Linked DNA regions of Homo sapiens: region 2 is linked to region 1. Evidence: fine-mapped expression QTL. A gene starts in region 1. The other region holds a variant in brackets. All regions are shown on one strand. Distances are between the middles of the regions.

Region 1 (5,374 bases):
ATGAATGGCGTCAAAAAATGAAAATATGGGGGGAAAAGAAACAAGAAAAAGTTTAGATCAATGTGAATGAAGAAATGCTTCTAAAGAAAACAACAGCCAGAATGGAATTTCAACCTGCAGAGAGGACTCCTAGAGCAAAGGCCCCTCAATTCTACCAACAGGTCAAATACTACTGGATAGAATTTGTGGATGTTTTTTCAGCAGTGCCATTAATAGATTACTTCTCCAAGGGCCCACAGTTCACGCACCTTAAAGTCAAGCTTACCTCAGAGGGCTCCTAAGGAGTCTGCCCATCATCATACTTTCCAAATGGCTTACTTGTAGCTCCTCACCTCCACCCTACTCATAAAAGCACTGGCTTGAAGCAACAAACCTGGAATCTTGTCTTAGCTTTATGCTGACTCTTATCATACTGGGAAGGCCAATTGGGTTAAACAGATACTGTGTGCCTAACATGTGCAACAGATTGTCGCGAGGATGGAATGCTGACAAACGGAACAGATGTGTTCCCTACTCTTCACAGGCTCTGTGTCTCAGTTTTCCATCATTCACTTAACTTTACACAATGCCCATTATGCGCTAGGCACTGAAGGTACGATGGCAAACACATCAGATACGGTCATCCATGTCTTCATGAAGCATCAGTCTAGTGGGAAAAACAAGTATCGTTGCACTGTACCAGAGTTATTTTTTATTTTTTTCCGAGACGCAGTCTTGCTCAGTTGACCAGGCTGGAGTGGAGTGGTGTGCTTTCGGCTCAGTGCAACCTCCACCTCCTGGGTTCAAGCGATTCTTCTGCCTCAGCCTCCCGAGTAGCTGGGATTACAGGCATGCACCACCACACCCAGCTAATTTTTGTATTTTTAGTAAGGACGAGGGGTGGGGGTCTCACCATGTTGGCCAGGCTGGTGTCAAACTCCTGACCTCAAATGATCCACTCGCCTCAGCCTCCCAAAGTGCTGGGATTACAGGCATGCGCCACCACACCCGCCTAATTTTGGTACTCTTAGTAGAGATGGGGTTTACAGGGTTTCACCATGTTGGCCAGGCTGGTCTCTATCTCTTGACCTCAGGAGCTGCCTGCCTCGGCCTCCCAAAGCGCTGGGATTACAGGCGTGAGCCACCGCACCCAGCCCTGTACCAAAGTTATTAAATGGAGGAAGCAGAAATTAATTTGGGAGGGAGGGTCAGGGAAAACTTCCTGGAAGACACATCTATGCTGAAATGTGAGTTAAGTTTGCCAGACTAAAAAAATGAGAGGGCTCACTTTCTTTGAGTATTCAGGAGGACAAACAAACAAACAACAACAACCAAACCCAAAAACAGTACGAGAGCACAAACAAGACTGAAGTACACATATGTGCCCTGAACACAAAAAACATCTTGAGCACCCTGCTTTTAAGCCTCCTGGCCATTCTGTCACTTCTGTTGGAAAGTATTTCCCTCCTTGTCCATTTCTGTGAATTCCTTCTGTTATGGTTAAACTGTTCCCCCAGCACTCCAGAATGTGATTGTATTTGGAGATCAGGCTTGTAAGAAGGTAATTAAGTTAAAATGAGGCCATTAAGGTGGGCCCTAATACAACCTGACTGACGTTCTCATAAAGAGGAAATCTGGATGCAAAGAGAGACGCCAGAGATGTGAAAACACAGAGGAAAGACCATGCGAGGACACAGCAAGAAAGCAGCCACGTGCAAGCCAAGGAGAAATGTCTCAGAAGAAACCAAACCTGAAGACACCTTGATCTTGGACTTCTAACCTCCAGAACTGTGAGAAAATAATAAATTTCTGTTGTTTAAGCCACCCAGTATTTTGTTTGCAGTCCTAGCAAACTAATACACCTTCTATTCCAGGCCCAACACTGCTCACTTTCAGAGTGAAACCTTATCACCCATATACACACACCTTGGGAGTGAAGGTTTCTCACAATACTCTGTGCATCCTCCACTCAACTTTCATTCATTCATTTAAGCAACAAACACCTAGTGACCACCACTGTGTGCCAGACCCTGTTTTAAGGGCTGAGAAGAGCTAACGTTTATTGAGTACTTACTAAGTGGCAGCCACTAGTCTAAGCGATTTACATGCACCAACTCATGAAATACGACAAGGTTCCAGGGACGCAGGTGCCGCTATGACATTCGCTTTACAGATGCGGGGCTGAGGCACAAAGAGGCCACACCGTAATGAAACTGAGCTAGGCTGTGGGCTCTGTCGTCTTAAGCGCTACTCTCAACTACAGCGTGGAAGGAAACAGAAGCCGAGAGATGGGCAGCGCGTAGCGGAGGCGGGCCGGGCTGGCTTCCAGCGGGCAAAGCCTGGAGATGAGAGGGCGCGGGTGGGGTTTCCAGGCCGAGGAAGCTGCACCAGGGAGAAGGCCCGGCTCCCAGGCCCGGAACCTGGCCGTCTGGGTCTCAGTCCGCGTCCCCTGTGATGCCCGGCACAGAGCAAATGCTCGCTGACTCTCGCAGGAGCCGCCAACCCCCCGGGTATCCTCGAGTGCCCAGAGACGGGAAGGAGCGGTGGGTCCATGCCCTTCTGGGCCACCTTCGGGCGCCCGGCCTCCCTTCCCTTCCGGGCCATTCCCACCAGCGCCAGCCCCGCACGCCTTCGCAAGGCCGGCCACCTTACCCTCGGAGGCCGCTCTCTGCCCCGCCGCCTACTCTTCACCTGCAGCAGCTGCCTTCAAGGCCACTCGCAGCGATCCGCTGGCCGCGGAATCATCACGACAACGCCCCCTTGGCTTGCCGGAACCGCCTTCCTGCTTCCGTTGGCGTCACTTCCACTGGGGGGGGCGTGGCCGCGGTGCGCAGGCGCGCTGGGTGGTTCAGAAGCGAATTCTGCACCGCGAAGCCTGAGAGGCAGGTAGCTGCGGCGCTGGGCTGGCGGCGGCGAGTCCACGTGCTCCCCGCGGCCGGTTGAAACCGTTGGCGGGCGCTGGCTGAGAGGTGAGGGGTGGTGGCCCAGAGGTCCGACCTGGGAGGCTGGGGCTCAGAGAGTGAGTAGGGGAGGGACGGGATTTCCACCGTCAGCCCCTCTGGGTTACGCATGGAGGAAGGAGTTCCATTCAGATCTCACTCCTGCTCTGGGGAAGTGGCAGGAGTCCTGGACTTAGGGTGACCAACTCGTTTTAGTTTTAAAACTTAAGGTCCGGCGTCCTGGGAACTCCCTCGGGCCTGGCCAAACCAGGACGATTGGTCACCGCCCGACTGGGCTTCAGGCTTGCTGCATGTTGGAGACAGGGCTCTTCTCTGAGCCTTGGGAGATCAGTCCCTAAAGAGGAGGCCTTAGGATGTAGCGGTCCAGAGCACATACTTAGGATCAGAATAACTACTGCGTGTGAATCTGGGTTGCCACTACCTGGATGTGGGATGACCTGGTGTAAGTTTTTTAACCTCTTTGCGCCTCACTTTCCTCATCTGTCATAACATATAGAATCTAACTCGGAGAACTGTGATGAGGATTACATGAGTAGAAATGTGTTAACCTCCTATGAGAGGGCTTGGGTGCTCCATGAATGTTAGGATTCTCTGAAGCACCTACCTCTGAGGAGAGAGGGAGGAGGATGAGGTGGGGTCTGTATTTGCAACCCTGATTTCTAGCAGAGAGGGCCCACTTGGGACTTACTCACACTGTGCCCGAGGCTCCCAGGGTCTAGCATAGTGCCTGACACATGGTAGTTACTCGAGTGAAGGGATGGTGTTTAAAACAGTGCTGGTGATGCCGTGGGTGGGGTAGGAGGCAGAGAGAAATGGCTTCTGTGCCTCAGTTTGCTCATCTGTTTAGTGGAGATAGGTGCACCTACTTCCCAGGGCTTTTGCAAGGAACAAGGGAGAGATTCTCTCCTTGTGAATGTCACCCATTGTAACCCTTGTCAGCCTCATACACAAAGGTTTAGGCAGGATGGTGGACAGAGTATGTTTGTCTGTCCTTCTCTTGCACCATACCCATGGTTTCTCAGAATGCTACCCGTGGAAGGGGCTTGAGTCTTGTCAAGTTGGCCTGACTTCTTGTTTCACAGATGAGATAACTTGAAGTTTATAGAGGCAGTGGCATGCTCAGGGTCACAGTGTTCAGTGGGGGATATCCTGGGGTTGCCAGCTAGGCCCCTCAGGTGGGCTGTTTGAGTGGTAGTGGTGGTAATGATGTGTAGGTCAGTGTCTGCATGTGCATGCAAGAATATTTTAAGAATAGTCAAGGCCAAGCGCAGTGGCCCGTGCCTGTCATCCGAGCACTTTGGGAGGCCGAGGAGGGTGGATCACCTGAGGTCAAGAGTTCACAACCAGCCTGGCCAACATGGTGAAACTCCGTCTCTACTAAAAATACAAAAATTAGCCGGGCATGGTGGCATGTGCCTGTAATCCCAGCTACTGGGGAGGCTGAGGCCGGAGAATCACTTGAACCTGGGAGGCAAAGGCTGCAGTGAGCCGAGATTGCGCCATTGTACTCCAGCCTGGGCAACAGAATGAGACTCCGTCTCAAAAAAAAAAAAAAAAAGAAAAAAAATTGAATAAGTAATACAAAAATATAGAGGGAAGAAGATTTAAAAAAAATCATTCCAATCTCAGAACCAAACCTAAGGGCATGTTATCAGGGAACTTGGTAAAGTAGGCAGCCATGGGGTGAGGAGCCAGAGAAGGTTGGAGTGAATTTATGAACATAAATGGGTGGGTTGATGGTCATATTTAAAGGAGCATGGGTTTAGGAGGGGGCTGGGTATAATAGCATTGATGTGCAAATTAGTAGGTCACAGAGAAACCTTTCTACAATTGGGCAGGGATGAAGCTTTCATATCTGGTGTCTTATTTAACTTTCCACCCAATGCTTTGAGTTAGGTATTAGATCCATTTTACAGATAAACAGATTCTGGGAAGTTAAGGTGCTTTGAGGTCATTTAGTTTTTAATGACTTTTTTGACATTAGCAGATGTAGGCTCCAGCTCAGATCCTCTACACCTGAGTCAGGGCCCTGTCCAACAAAAGCTGGCAACCATCTTGTTAAGAGAAGACTAACAAGTTCCCAGCCCCTTAGTGACCACTGGCTGCTGCCCCTCAGCTAGCTTTGCTGTCCAGACCCTGACAGCCTCTCCTGTGACATGGGTGGTCTCCTTGCCCACTGCACAGAGGTTTTATAATTAAGACTTAGGGTTCTAATATTTATACATGGAAAGTCATCTTATAGAGACCTTAATTTTTTTTCTCTTTGGATGAGGACCTCAAGGTCCCAGGTGCTGAGTAACCACCAAGCAAACGGCTAGGACATGGCAGGTCAAGATGGAGGCAGGGTGGGAGCCTGGGCTTGCTGCCTGGTCTTTCAGGCCACCTCTGCCACTTACTGTGACTTCGGGCAGTTCACTTACCCTCCTGAGCCTTAG
Region 2 (5,374 bases), 33 kb after region 1:
TCTTTTGAGTGCAAATGCTACTTTCATTTCTTGTTGCTGTTATGGGATCTAGGGAAGCTTTAATTTATTCCCTCTGATACAAGTGATTAAACTGCCCCTTGGGTAGTTTAAATTGTAATTGCTGAGTAAATACATATGTTTGTCAGAGTTTAAAGGTCACACATCGCTCAGGAGGTCAGGCCTTTGTTTGGCCACAGAGCGGGTATTGTGAGCTGTTGAAATACCACCTTTGCTGCCCTCCTCCCTTCCCGGTGACCTCAGGCCGACTTCTGTCCATTGTAGATCAAAGGTAGGGAAAGATTCGGTTCCACTGAGCAGTTGCTAACAGCATGGCTTTGGGGATTTGGCAGCAAATTTGAATCAGGATACTATAGTAGTAATGTCATAGGATAGCCCCGCTCAGACTGATTTTATACTGAACAGGGAGGTATTATACAGCTGAACTTGAAACGGTAGTCTCTCTTGCAGGTTTCAGAAAAAAGTTAAGGTCATAGAATTTCTCAGTTTTAGTGTCCCTGCGTAACACCTCTTAAGCCTTTTGGCATCTGTGGCCATGAGATTCTAATTTAGATGCTAGGAGAGCTGGCATAAACATTTATAGCACTTGGCTATTTTTTGCTTAATTTATCCAGATTTCATGATGTTCTACAAAAGTGTGCCTGGCACTCTACTGTGTGAATGAGTTTGAGAGTTGTGGGTCTATAGGGATAGGCAGTAACTTCAAGACAATTGTAATGATGGCAGCTACTGTATCTTTTTTTTTTTTTTTTTTTTTTTTTTTTTTGAGACAGAGTCTCACTGTCACCCAGGCTGGAGTACAGTGGCATGATATCAGCTCACTGCAACCTCTGCCTCCCAGGTTCAAGTGATTCTTGTAACTCAGACTCCCGAGTAGCTGGGACTACAAGGGCACATCACCACGCCCGGCTAATTTTTGTATGTTTTGTAGAGACGGGGTTTTGCCATGTTGGCCAGGCTGGTCTTGAACTCCTGACCTCAGGTGATCTGCCCGCGTCGGCCTCCCAAATTGCTGGGATTACAGGCGTGAGCCACCGCGCCCGGCCTAGCTACTGTATCTTGGGGGCTCTTTGTGCCAGGTGCTGTGTCGGTTCCTGAATGTCAGGTCTGCTTCTTGCCGCATCACAGCACCCAGGCTGGGATTCTAATATGGTTGTCCTTTCCCTCACAGCTGGGCATTCTGCTCACGGTTGCCAGTCTTGAAAGGCTGACAGTTTCTCTCCTTTGTCTATTCTTTTCTTTCTTTCTTTCTTTCTTTCTTTCTTTTTTTTTTGAGAAAGAGTTTTGCTCTTGTTGCCGAGGCTGGAGTGCAATGGCGCGGTCTCGGCTAGCCACAACCCCTGCCTCCCGGGTTCAAGCAGTTCTTCTGCCTCAGGCTCCTGAGTAGCTGGGATTACCGGCATGCACCACCATGCCCGGCTAATTTTGTATTTTTAGTAGAGATGGGGTTCTCCATGTTGTTCAGGCTGGTCTCGAACTCCTGACCTCAGGTGATCCACCTGCCTTGGCCTCCCAAAGTGCTGGGATTACAGGCGTGAGCCACTGCTCCTGGCAACACTTTGATTTTTCTAAGGTTGGCAGAGGGATTTCCTCATACGCTGTGTTCAAACATGTGTTTGCACATTGACGTTTGTGATTTTCTTTTTTTTAATTATTTTTATACGTTCTGGGGTACATGTGCAGGATGTGTACGTTTGTTGCATAGGTAAACATGTGCCATGTGGTTTGCTGCACAGATCATCCCATCACCTAAGTATGAAGCCCAGCATGCATTAGCTCCTTTCCCTAATGTTCTCCCCAACCCCACCGCTGCCCTCCAGTAGGCCCCAGTGTGTGTTGTTCCCCTCTCTGTGTCCGTGTGTTCTCATTGTTCGGCTTCCACTTGTAAGTGAGAACATGTGGTGTTTGGTTTTCTGTTTCTGCATTAGTTTGCTGAGGATAATGGCTTTCAGCTTCATCCATGTCCCTGCAGAGGATATTCTCTTGTTCCTTTTGATGGCTGCATAGTATTCCATGGTGTATATGTACCACATTTTCTTTTTCCAGTCTATCATTGATGGGCATTTGGGTTGGTTCCAAGTCTTTGCTATTTTGAATAATGCTGCAATGAACATATGTGTGCATGTATCTTTATAATACAATGATTTATATTCCTGAGTATATACCCAGTAATGGGATTGCTGGGTCAAATGGTATGATTTTCCTTTTTACATTAAAAAAAATTTCTTTCGTTCCTTTCTCTTTTGTGAGAAATCACACCCGGATGTCATTTTCACTACTTCTTGATGAGGAGGTGTGGAGTCTCTCAAGGGGATGACATGCAGATTCTTACTGGCATAAAAGTGACCCTCAGTTGGCGAATACCTTATTGAATTTCTGTACTATTATTGGGCATGTCCTAAGCCCTCAAGCAAGGGATGGCAAATAGATTCTATCTGACACTACAACTAACTCTAGTCAACTGGCAGTGATTTTCCGGTGCTCTTCAGGATTTTGAGGCTTCCACCTGGCTGTCAAAGGGAAATAAATGCTGCATTTGATCAGCAACATCTGCCACGGGTCTGGGTGGAAAGGGGCACCCAGGTTGCCACATCTTCCCTCCTGGCTTCTCATCTATGGAGATGGCCAGCACCATGGAGCCAGCATTCAGCAAGAATGGCCCCAGGGAAGGGAAAAGGAAATGGCTGCGCTGCCATCAAGAGTGGGCCGAGGTAAATATCC[G/A]GTGCAGCATGACGCAGTGGGATTGGAGTGCAGGTGCACAATCCCGTGCAGCATATAATCAGTTATGTAACCATGTTATGGGTGGGCTCATCCCCTGGCTCTGAGCCGCTATTGTCTGTGAAGCGCACAAATGTATCACGAACACTGTGAGAAGGCATGCATAATGGAGTTGGCTGCCTTGCAGGTGGGGGTGGGTGGGTGGAGCCAGGAAATGGTGAGCACACTGGGGAGTGCAGCTGCAGACTGTGGAGCTGGCACTGAGTGGGGCTGCTGAGCAGGCAGCCAAGACAAAGGCTGACACAGAGAATAAAGCCATATCCCACCTGTATAAGATCCCTCGAGTGTTCTTTCAGCTACCCGCCACCGGTCCACCTACTCCCCTCGGACCCCAGCTTGGGTTGGAAGCTGACACTGACTTTCTTTCTTTTCTGTGAGGTGGAGTCTAGCTCTGTTGCCCAGGCTGGAGTGCAGTGGTACGATCTCGGCTCACTGCAACCTCCGCTTCCCAGGTTCAAGCGATTCTCCTGCCTCAGCCTCCAGAGTAGCTGGGACTACAGGTGTGCACCAGCACACCTGGCTAATTTTTGTATTTTTAGTAGAGATGGGGTTTCACCATGTTGGCCAGGCTGGTCTCAAACTCCTGACCTCAGGTGATCTGCCCACCTCGGCCTCCCAAAGTGCCATGATAACAGGTGTGAGCCACCACACCCGGCTTCTGACACTGACAAATAGCTTATGTCCTGAGGTGCTTTGAGTCATGAGACGCAGTTTAGCCTGGCAGCCGAAAGCTTGGGTTAGTATCCTAGCTCCCCCACTTTCCTAGCTTTGAGCCTACGGAGCAAAGACCTGAGGGATGGCTGACTTTTGAACTCCGACAAAGTAGGTATTTTCTCAGTAATTGTAATTAAACTACCAAACGGAGAGTTTAATCATTCATAGCAAAGGAATACTTGAAAGAAGCTCCTTTGAATCTCATAACAAAAAAGGCTGGTGCCTCCATTTTCTCATGTATGAAATAGGAATTATAACAGTAACTGCCTCATCCAGCTGCTGTGAGGATGGCGTAGTTAACACGTGAGGGGCATGGTAAATGATGGCCAGTTTGCACCACAGTCATCCTTTCTTCCACTGCTTCCTGCCCTCTTTCTCCTGGCATGGCCACCAGCCTCACCCCTTCAAGGCCGCGTTGCAATGACCTGCTGCTGCTCCCCTGGGAGTGACCATGAGGCCTTCGTGGGCAGCCTTTCCCCACTGCCTGGATTCCACTTTAATATGAATTGTTCCCTTTCATGGGTACTTCCTATATGCCAGGCATAGTAATAAGCCCTTTACATGTATCATTAAGCTTTTCAAAATCTCTAGGAGGGAGGCGTTATTGCTCCCCCTTCATAGATGAGCAGGTGCCGAGAGCTTACGTGACTTGTCCCAGGCCACATGGTAAGTAGCAGAATCAGGACTGATTTGAACTCAGGTGCTGTATGGTAAATGCATCTGATAGCAATAACTTAAGCAGACCCTGGGAATGACCTTTATGGCAGATGCACCTGAATGTGTGTTCCAGATTAGGGAATCCGGGACTGGCCAACCAGAGATTCTTTCCTTGTCATCTGAGCCCCTGTCCTGTCCTGTCCTGTGAAACACGAGCTGTACAGGGGATATTGAAGCCCTGAGTTTTGGGTTGCATGAAGGTTGCTAGGGATAGCGTGGAGGTTGTTAGGGGTGGGTGTCAAAAGAAGATGCTATATAAGCTGCATGCCTTTCGAAAGCAGGTGCAGTTATCCAGGCCAGCCCTGCACCAGCAGACTCTCTCTTGTATGTAACACTCCATGTCTCGTTTGCTCTGGCTCTGGGTCTCTTCTTTAGCTTGTTGAACCTGGCGGTATCTACATTGGAGTCAATAGGGTTTTGGCACAACAGGTGTCTCCTTGATTTCTTTGTATTCTCCTGGCCAGCATTTTCCATTGGTCAGGACCCCCTTCTTGTTTCCCCCTTCCCTTTCTCAGTACTGATTAGATCACTATTAAAAAGATCTTGCAAGTAGGGTTTTAATTAAAAACAACAGGGTTTTCTAAGCGGGTTCCGTGATGGGCCATGTGATCAGAAAGCCTTTATCATGGTTTTATGGATGGTAATATCAGGCACGGCCATCATTCAAATATATAGGGTTTTTTTTGAAAGAGAAAAAAATGAGTCTGCTTTATTTGATCATCTGCAAAGCAGTAACAGACCAAGTTCCAGGCACCGAACAATCAGCCAGTGACAAGACTGACAAGGCTGCAGGGTTCGCCTGGGAAGGGCAGTCGGCCAGGACCCGCCTCCATTGTCCTCTAGGTTTGCCAGCCTGGTAGTGGCCCTCAACCTGAATGGCAGCAATTTAATAAAAGAAATTGTCCTCCCACAGAACTGGAACCCAAATGTTGCCGCACAGCCAGAAATTTCAGGAGTGCTTGGGGACACTTACATAGTCAAGGGTCCTGCCCACCTGGCCTCTCAATCAAGGCCAGCTCCCTCCTACCTCTCCCCTCTTCTTTCTGGTTATAGGAACTGTCCTTTTCCCTGTTCCTGATATTTTGGTTGAGACCAGCATCTCTATTCTCTGTTCTTCTCCCCAACATCCTATTTCAGAAAACAACAC

The links. PIP is the estimated chance that this variant, and not a neighbour inherited with it, causes the effect.
Region 2: its variant is fine-mapped to the expression of ZBTB49 in subcutaneous fat (GTEx, PIP above 0.99).

Annotation. Positions count from the first base shown.
Region 1 is chr4:4,287,610-4,292,983 of GRCh38, reverse strand. It overlaps ZBTB49 (zinc finger and BTB domain containing 49), which reads right to left and starts at 2,733. Exons shown (of 8, transcript NM_145291.4): 1 at 2,632-2,733. LYAR (Ly1 antibody reactive) reads left to right here and starts at 2,830. Exons shown (of 10, transcript NM_017816.3): 1 at 2,830-2,948. RefSeq lists enhancers at 3,805-4,342, 4,343-4,881.
Region 2 is chr4:4,254,526-4,259,899 of GRCh38, reverse strand. No RefSeq gene overlaps it. Among named protein-coding and RNA genes, the nearest start is that of TMEM128, 9.0 kb to the right of the region's middle. RefSeq lists enhancers at 84-378, 2,360-2,860. The variant G/A (reference allele first, on the strand shown) is at 2,740.